Homo sapiens: one gene and its partner. The protein of the gene in region 2 purifies or fractionates together with the protein of the main gene of each other region. This does not show direct contact. Each region holds a gene or a part of one and is shown on either strand. Other genes may lie near its edges.

Region 1 (4,972 bases), on a different chromosome or scaffold from region 2:
CAGATGGCATGGATTTGAATCCTGGCTTTCACTTACTTGTCACCTAGGCCAAGTTATTTAACTTCTTTGTGCTATAGCTTCCTCATCTGTAAATTAGGGACCCTAGTAATACCTACCCAATAGGGTTGTGTGAGGATCGAATGAGATACTGCGAATGCTATAGCACGTTTAGAATGGTGCTTGGCTCTTACTATGTTTAGCTGCTATATGATAATATAGAAACTCAGTTTAAGAGATGTGATTCAGTCTAAATGTTTTTTGTTTGTTTGTTTGTTTATGAGATAGAGTCTCACTCTGTCACCCAGGCTGGAGTACAGTAGCATGATCTCGGCTCACTGCAACCTCCACCTCCCAGGTTCAAGCAATTCTTATGCCTCAGCCTCCTGAGTAGCTGGGACTACAGGCGTGTGCCACCATACCCGGCTAATTTTTTGTATTTTTAATAGAGATGGAGTTTCGCCATGTTGGCCAGGCTGGTCTCAAACCCCTGACTTCAAGTGATCTGCTGGCCTCAGCCTCCCAAAGTGCTGAGATTACAGGCATGAGCCTCCACGCCCAGCCTAAATGTTTGATTACTATTGTTAGGTAGTTAAACTAACCACATTGAGGACCACCTTTGGGTTAGCAGTTCATGAAAACTGAAGGTGTTCCTGTCGGAAATGGGCGGTGCTTACTGGAAGGCTCCATCACTTATGTCTCTGAGGGCATTAGAGTTGTCTGGCAATTTATAGGTTTGAAGCGTTTTCATATGTATAAAAGATATATATGTGTGTGTGTATATATACACACCCACACACATGCACTTCATATATAGAACAGATATAAATATATTACCTAGGATCTAATTGTGAAATTGTATATTTTCCTATCAATGTTTATAGACAAGGAATTGTATAAAGAATACTATCCTTAAAAATGTCTCTAAGTATAGCTCTAAATTATTTCAAGTCCAGGGATTTTACCAAAAAAAAAAAAAAAAGTAGTAGTTTAGTGGTGTTCCATGGTGGTATTTTCAGAGACTTGGGTGGTTTTATATTTTTGCCTATCCTTTGCAGCCTGTATAATGCACCAAGTTTCACTTTACTCAGAAGTGATACCCAAATCATGCCTTTTAAAGGTATGTAAATAGATTTTACACAGAGTAAAATTAAATGTGTAATTTGATTTGGAAACTACATACGTGTCAGATCATTTCAGATGTGAATATTAAATGGTGGACTAAGTCTGGGTCAGAGGAAACTCTTGGCAGTACGGGTCTGTATTAGCCTGTGTGGCTTCTCACAACATCTTTGATTATTTCACTGCTTATTAGCAACTTCTGCAGATGATAGTGTAGGAAGGTAAAGAAAGTTTAGGCTGGGCATGGTGGCTCACACTTATAATCCCAGCACTTTGGGAAGCCAAGGCAGGAGGATCACTCGAGCCCAGGAATTCAGGACCAGACTGGGAAATATAGTGAGACCTCATCTTTACAAAAAATTTCAAAAATATTAGCCTAGCATGGTGGACATGCCTGTAGTCCCAGCTGCTTGGGAGGCTGAGGTGGAGGATCACTTGAGCCTGGGAGGCAGAGGTTACAGTGAGATTAGATTGCACCACTGCACTCCAGCCTGGGCAACAGAGCAAGACCCTCTCTCAAAAAAAAGAGAAAGTTTCAGTTAAATCAGTACTGTTGCTTGGTAGCCGGGTTGGTAAGAAAGCTCTAAGTGAGGTTGCCTAATGGGAACTTCAGAGACCCTCACTGGCTCCAGGTCACTGACAGGCCCCTGTGGGGCCTTTCTGCCTTGTAAAGGCTTCAGGGATCTTTCAGACTTCCCCTTCTTCAAAGGCTTAATCAAAAGAGTTAGACCCAGAAGCCACTGTTGCTATGAAACTGTTACTTATGGTTTGAAACCTGGGAGCAGATGGCATATTTATATAGACCACACCTCCTGGACTCTTTCCAGAGAGACCTTGGTGTATTGTTTATCACGACCTGCAGATTGTCTAATAGGAACATAAATGCCTTCTCTAGTCCTCCTTGGCATGGTGACCACCACTAGTAGAATGAGGATACTATTAGGTACTTTGGCAACTGAGGTAAAATAAACATGGACTCTGAAAGCAAATATATTAGTTCGATGAAGAGCTCTTATTGCTTTCAAATTATTCATTAGCCCATTAGAACTTGAACATTATGAATTATGAAAGAGTTCTGTTTCTGTTAAAAATAAGATAAAACCTGTCCTTGTTTTTTTTTATTATTGAGTTCCATTATTTCTAGGATATAAACAGTATAATTATATATTGAGTACAAGATAATGAAACTAGAACAATTTGCTCAGCCTTATAAAGCCAGCATGGCCTTAATTAGAATAGACAACTGTCTATAGCTCTAAATCAGAGCAAATGTGATATTAGGGTGCTCTTATCAAGGGATTTTAAGGAATGTTTTCAAGATTGGGTAAAGACAGAGTGGGAGGGGAAAAATAAAAGTAAAAAAGCATTGAGAGCTATACAATCAAAACATTAGAAAGCCAATAAAGGTTTGGAGATGAGGAAGGAAAGTCTGTGTGTTTCTGAGCAGGGACTAGTGGCCGTTAGTCGTCCCACTCACCCCATCCTTCCAAAGGTCAGCTGGAGTCCTGGCTGGTGGTCTGTCGGTCCTCTTAGTGAGTTGCCAGTCCTCCTACTGAGTTGCTCCTGCTTAGCATGAGCACAGAGAGCCTCTCGTGGATGACTGGAAGACAGAGAAGCCGCCAGCCAGCCCACGCATGGACTGCTGCCTCACAGGCTCATGCTGGTCAGGGGGACCCAAGCCGATGGCTGTCTCTCTTCTTTGACTTCTGAATAGTTCAGTCACTTAAAAGTAATCTGATTCCTCTACATTTCAGGATAAGTACATTGGCTTATAAGAATGAAGAATGTTATTTCCTTAGAGTGTTGCTAAATCTACAAAATTTAGTATCACAGAGTCATGAAGAACCTGGAAGTTCCACCCCACCCTCACCCTGCACCAGTCCAGTGCTGACCCCCCTCTTCCCACTCCAGGGCAGTCCAGCCTCTACTACACCCTTCCTTCTCCTCAAGGCAGCCATTTGGTCCCAGGTCAGCTCCGTGAGAAACTCTGCCTTTCATTAATGCAGCTTCTGAGGCTTCTGCATTCAAGTCAGCCTCCCTTCCATAAGTCAGTTCCCAAGCCTCATGAGGGCAGGAGCTGAATGTGTCTTCTTGCCCTTTGTCTTCCCCTAGCAGAGTGCCTGACTCCTCGTAGGTGCTTATTAAGTAGTTTTAAAATTCCTCACTGAATTGATCTTAGTTCTTTCATGGTGCCTTAAAATAAGTCCCTCAAACATGTGAATATCACCTTGCAGGCCAGCACACATCCCACATCTTTTGAACCTTCCTCCGATGTAACTTCCGGTTCCTTCAGTGTCCTGATCTCTCTTCTCTGAAAGGGGATCGGTCATCTCTCTTCCTCCAGGCAGAGCCTGGGTGCAGTACAGATCCACTCATCCGCCATAGGGAGAGCCTGGTCGGTTTCTAGCTGAAATCCAGATACACTTTGAACACCACGTTTTCCTTCCTAAGGAGTAGATGCTAGTGTCATGAGATTTGTTCTTAATGACCTTCTTGCCAGAGAAGGCAGAAGCCACATTTAGAAATTCTACTTTCTGTCTATTAAGGATGTAATATCATACCATCTGCTCCAACAGCAGTTTATCCTCTGTCCCTTTTTTGTTTCGTTTTGTTTTCTGCCAAGAAAGAGTAAATGTGTTCTTAGCATTTCCCCCACCCAGATCTTAGCTCACCGAGGTCCCTGGCCTCTTTGCTCTTATGGGTTCTTGCTTCCCTCTTATATTGGCCTTTGGTTACTGGCCCCTCTGACCTCCTATGATCTGCATCTTCTGTGCAACTCCTTATAGCACGGAGCTTGGTGCTCATCTTATTTCCAGTGTGCTTCCTGTCCTTACTCTCTGGAGAAAACCTGGATGATGTCTGTTAAGGCCTCTGCATTCTCTTCTGTCACCCTTCCTTTCCTAAGACCTCCCTGGGATCTGCCTCTCTCCTCTGAACTTCTTGGACTGCCTTAATGAGGTGTGTATATCTGGCCAGACTGCTTTTCCATCCTAAGCTATCGTGAATTCTGGCATGGCACAGTCCCTTTTTTTTTTTTTTTTTTTTTTTGAGACAGTATCCCACTCTGTCACCCAGGCTGGAGTGTAGTGGCATGATCATGGCTCACTGCAGTCTCGGCCTCCCAGGCTTAGGTGAGCCTCCCAAGTAGCTGGGACTATAGGCGTGCCACCATGCCCCATTAATTTTTTCTTTTAATCCCCGGAGATGGTCAGGAAACGGTTATTTTATTTGTTTATTTATTTTTTATTTTGCATTTTTTGTAGAGATGGGGCTTTGCCATGTTGCCCAGGCTGGTCTGGAACTCCCAGGCTCAAGCAATCCACCTGCCTTGGCCTCCCAAAGTGCTGGGATTACAGGTGTGAGCCACCGTGCCTGGCTGGTTGATGGTCACTTTTTCTCAAGGTTTTGGCACATCCACCTCGCCTGTCAGTCTCTCCTGTTCCAGGCAGACCTTGCTGCTCTTGGTCAAAGATTTTTCTCTAATCACACAGGACCAAAAGCCAACACTGAGTGCTGCTCTCTGAGCAATGCCCTGCTCAGTGACAATTGGCTAATTAAAGTGTAAACTGATCTGAAGGCCAGGCTCTCCTGGGATGCTTGCAAATCAGATCAAGTTTACTGCAGGCTCCAGGCTGAAAGACTATCCCCAGAATGGTCCAGTGATCATGATCCATAGCTTTGTATCCAACTCCAGGAGGAGGTTAATGAGCATCATTTACATCATTTTCATTGAATGTGCTTAACACGGAAGGGATTGCCAACAAGAAGCTCCTTGTATGGAGTCAGTTCTCTAGGCCCAGCAGTGTTATTTGTGATTGCCTAACCAGGCGGAATGAGACCTAAAGACAGTGAA
Region 2 (4,076 bases):
GTTTTCGTGAGCCCGAGCAGCGGCGAGCCCAGGGCGCCGGGCGGCCGGGAGGCTGGTCTGGCTTAGCTGGGCCGAGAGGCCGGAGGGCCGAGTTAGAGCGGCCGGCCTGACTCTCTATGCAACACCCCATCCTTGCCGCACCGAGTGCACTTTAGGGGCCCCTACGGCCGGCGGGATCGGCCTCCCTCCCCCACGACTCAGCAATACCCGCCCCACCGGCTGTGATGCTCCAATAAACTTTTTTATGCTTTTGCGGACGTCGCGCTTACTTTCTTAATGGCAGGGGCCACGGGCCATCCAGAAGCCCGACCCTGGCCAGTGGACCGGGGGCGGGGAGGAGGTCCCTGTATAGTAGGTAGCCACCCAGGCTGCCCTGTGGAGGTGCTCACGTGCGGCTCGTGGTTAGGAAAGGCCTTAGAAGGCGGCCTGGAGGAGGTTATTTTTCTTAAAGATGGGCTTTGCACTGGGAGGCCGAGAGAAAGCAGGCTTTGGGCTCCGAAAGCAGCAGTGGGCGCTGAGGCTGCGAGGCCGTGGGGAGGTGGCGGCGAAAGGAGGGGGCCGAGCCAGGAGGTCCCGCAGCTTTTCCCCGGCAGCAGGGCTGCCGTCGAATGCCAGCATCCTGGGGCTGGGCGAGCGCGATTCGCTCGTAGGGAGTCCCCTCCCTTCTTCCCCACTGCTCCAGGCTCTGAATCCTACCCAAGAGAGCACGGGAGTTGTGGCCTGGGGGTGCCATCCGTTCAGTGGATGGCAGTGCTCTTGAGTCAACCGTATACCCCTGTCACTGAGGGAGAGCTCCTTCCCGATTCCCCAAGCCCCACCAATGCCCCGCGCAGCTCCCCAGTGGCCTCTGGTTGACTCTCTGGGGAGCTGGATCTCTTCTGGAGATTGGGGCCGCTTAGAGCTTTAGGCACATCCCAGGATGGGAGGCTGTTTCCTCAGGGGGCCGTCCGAAGACGCCCCGAACTGCAGAGCGCTGGTCTCGCCGTCGCGAGGACCGCGGAGTTGCGGGGGAGGGGCGGGATGCGGCTCCCGGAGAGTCTCGGGGAGGGCGGGGCCTCGTGGGCGGGGCCGGCGTGACCTTGGTCACTCTCCCGCCGAGACAGCCTCGGGGGTGGGACTCGCCGTCTCTATGGAGACCGAGAAACAGGGGATAATACGGCGGAGCCGCCTGGGCTGCAGTCCCACCCGGGAGCCGGCAGGGAGCGGAGCTGCGGAGCCGCCTGGTCTCCCGCGTCCATCGGTCCATTCCTGCGTCGTTCTGTCCTTCCGAACGCACACTTCAGGAGCAGCCGCGAGGTAGAAGCCCATAGGAGACCCAGATGCCCGCCACCCCAATCAGTATCCTGCACGATGAGGGTTGGGGGGAGCAGCCTGGAAAGGGTCCCAACCTCCGGCGGTCCCAGCCGAGGAGCCAGCTGAGCGGCCCTGCCCTGGCCCCAAGCATTCCACCTCGCAGCCCCCACCTCCTGGTCCGGCTGATTGATGACTCCAGCTGTCCCAGTGGGAGCGGGACGGGTGGCTCCAGTTCACGGGTGTGGCCACTCCATCCATGGCCTGCAGACCCATGGGGCTGCGGCCTGCAACCCAGCGCCACCTGACCGCGCTGAGATGACCAAGAATCCATCTTTCCACGGACAGGAGTGAGCACTGCACGCAGGATCCGCCCAGTGCTTGGGCCAAGCACCCTGTGGCATCCAAGCTCCCCTGGACGTTACCCTTGGTGAACCAAGTGCGGGTCTTGGGGTCCCTGGTGGGAGGTTGCACCCAGGGAAAGGGAAGGGGAGTGCAGCGTGGACTGGGGTTATGGTCCCTGTAACGTAGGAACCACCGGTGCTCACAGTCCCAGAAACTGCCACTTAGGGATGGGAGTGTGGTCACTGGCGAGGAGTTTTTGGTGGAAGATGGGGCAGCCGGGCAGAGCCCAGGCCGTGGTCACTGGAAGCCCTAGTGTAAAAGGCAGAGCTAGAAGATGGTTGCTGAGACCGAGGGTGTGGTCAGGAGGTGGCAGTGGAGGAGGGGGATGTGGTGGGGAGGTCTCTACGCAGGGGATCTCCGCATAGTACCTGGGAGTCTTATAATGTTAGTGTGTGGATGTGGACTGGGGCCTTCAGTGCAGGCTGAGGGTGTGGCCAGAGGGCTGAGGGTGTGTGGACAAAGGGGTGCTGAGGGTCAGGGCGCCTTGATAAAGGGCTGCGGGTATTGGAGGGGGTGAGTGGCTGAGGCTATGGTCAGGGGTCTCAGGAAGGGATGCAGGTTTGTGGCCAGGGGCCTCAGCCCCAGGGCTGCGGGTGTGGGGATGGAGAAGGCTGCTGTGTAGGCTCAGGGTGTGGCCAGGGGTCTGCAGCGGAGGGCTGTGGGTGTGGGGGGCACTTTAGTGCTGGACTGTGGGTATTACTGGGGTTGGCGCAGGCTTGTTAGTATATATGTGGGGGCTGGTGGCCGAGGGCTGTGGCTGTGGGTGTGAAGATGGAGGATGGAGGGCTGAAGGTATGGCCAGGGGTACAAGGCCCAGGGGGTGGCAGGCCAGGGCTGAGTGCACAGGGTCGCTGGGAATGTGGGCTGGTGTGGCCAAGTTCAGGGCGTGGCCAGGGGAGGTCTGAGGTGTAGACATGATGAAGTGTGTTTCAGCCACAGCCCCACTTGCCAGCACGACTCTTGGGGTTCGTAACTCTACAGCCCCCACGCTACTAGCCCCCAACCTCCTGCTCCCCCAAAACTCCACAGTGGGAGGTTACAGCACCAGTCGGTGGCAAGGGGCCAGGAAGCCACGGTTATGCCCTAGGCGCAGGGAGTGCTGGCGTGCCCCACCCGTGGGCCCCAGCTTCCCAGCCCAGCCCAGCCCCTCAGCACTGGGAGCTTCTCCCTGAGCTGCCCTGACACCATCCTGCCCTTAGCAACATTCTCCAAGCAGCACCACCCTCCCTTAGCAACCGTCTCCAGGCTTCACAAACTGTGGCCAGGCCAGCCCCAAGCTCCCCTCATGTTTTTGTTTAACAGCAAATAGTAACAAGGCCTTGCTGGACCAGCTGCACCCCTGCCCAGGGCATGCACCCGTGCCCAGACTGGCTCTTGCTGGGTCCTCATGACCCTTACAGAGATGCTGTCCTCACTGAATGCCTGCCCGACCAGCAGCCTGGCCTGGCCCCAAGCCAGCTTGGCATGGAGCTTCCAGGGAGGGGGCCTGCTCTGCCACCCTCACTTCCACCCAAGCAAGGCCTTGTGCCAGGGCCAGACAAAGCCAGGGCCCCAGCTGCTGCCCTAACAGTCTTTCTGGACAGTGCCACTCTGTTCCCTGTGGGCATCATTATTTCATCTGCTGAACCCTGCTGAGAGCCAGGGCTGGCATTAGTGACAAGACCGTGCCTCCCGGGGCTCTTCCTTGGGGCTCTGTGGCCCAGGGCGACAGTGACGGGCCCCTCTCCCCAGGCAGCTCCAGCACCAACTCTGTAGCAGAACCTGCCCAGGTCTTGCAGGTTTGAGGTAGAGGCTGGGATGTTCTGGGCTTGGGGGAGGGGAAGGGCAGATTGGCTGGGAGATGACCCAGGTGGGTCTCTATAGGGTGGCATGGCAGCGAGCACAGACATGGCTGGGCTGGAGGAGAGCTTCCGCAAGTTTGCCATCCATGGTGACCCCAAGGCCAGTGGGCAAGAGATGAATGGCAAGAACTGGGCCAAGCTGTGCAAGGACTGCAAGGTGGCTGACGGAAAGTCCGTGACAGGGACCGATGTGGACATCGTCTTCTCCAAAGTCAAGTGAGCCCTAAGCAGCCCCTGCTTCTCATGTTCCCAGGAGGTGGGGAACTGGGGGGCTGGAACCAGGGAGGACATCAAGAAGGGGTCAGGGAAACACCATGATCACGAAGGTCGTTCTTCCAGGGCAAACCTTATATCTATTGCCCTCCAGAGTTGCTGACCCCTGCGACTTCCCCAAACGTGGGAAAGAAACGCAATTGCATAATTTGTGGTGGCAGCAAATGTGTTTGAGCTTTCCCCTGGGGGAGAAAAAAGAAAGGGGAACCCTCATGGTGCCCACATGCCTGTCAGGGGGAAGTCTGCTCGGGTCATCAACTATGAGGA

Evidence for each region. Proteins that work in one complex are often made in the same cells at the same time.
Region 1: the proteins of TPPP3 (region 2) and ARFGAP3 fractionate together in Homo sapiens (co-fractionation; one large-scale study listed by BioGRID). This does not show direct contact.

The regions. Positions count from the first base shown.
Region 1 is NC_000022.11:42,811,420-42,816,391, reverse strand, and holds part of ARFGAP3 (ADP-ribosylation factor GTPase-activating protein 3), read left to right. Parts: intron 1-4,972.
Region 2 is NC_000016.10:67,390,600-67,394,675, reverse strand, and holds the start of TPPP3 (tubulin polymerization-promoting protein family member 3), read left to right. Parts: upstream 1-1,177; 5' UTR 1,178-1,296; intron 1,297-1,638; exon of another isoform or gene 1,639-1,729; intron 1,730-3,303; exon of another isoform or gene 3,304-3,480; intron 3,481-3,558; 5' UTR 3,559-3,564; coding exon 3,565-3,752; intron 3,753-4,043; coding exon 4,044-4,076. Other genes in the region: palmitoyltransferase ZDHHC1, read left to right, coding at 1-10. UniProt on the Homo sapiens protein: Regulator of microtubule dynamic that has microtubule bundling activity. Required for embryo implantation; possibly by regulating beta-catenin. Also required for decidualization via regulation of beta-catenin.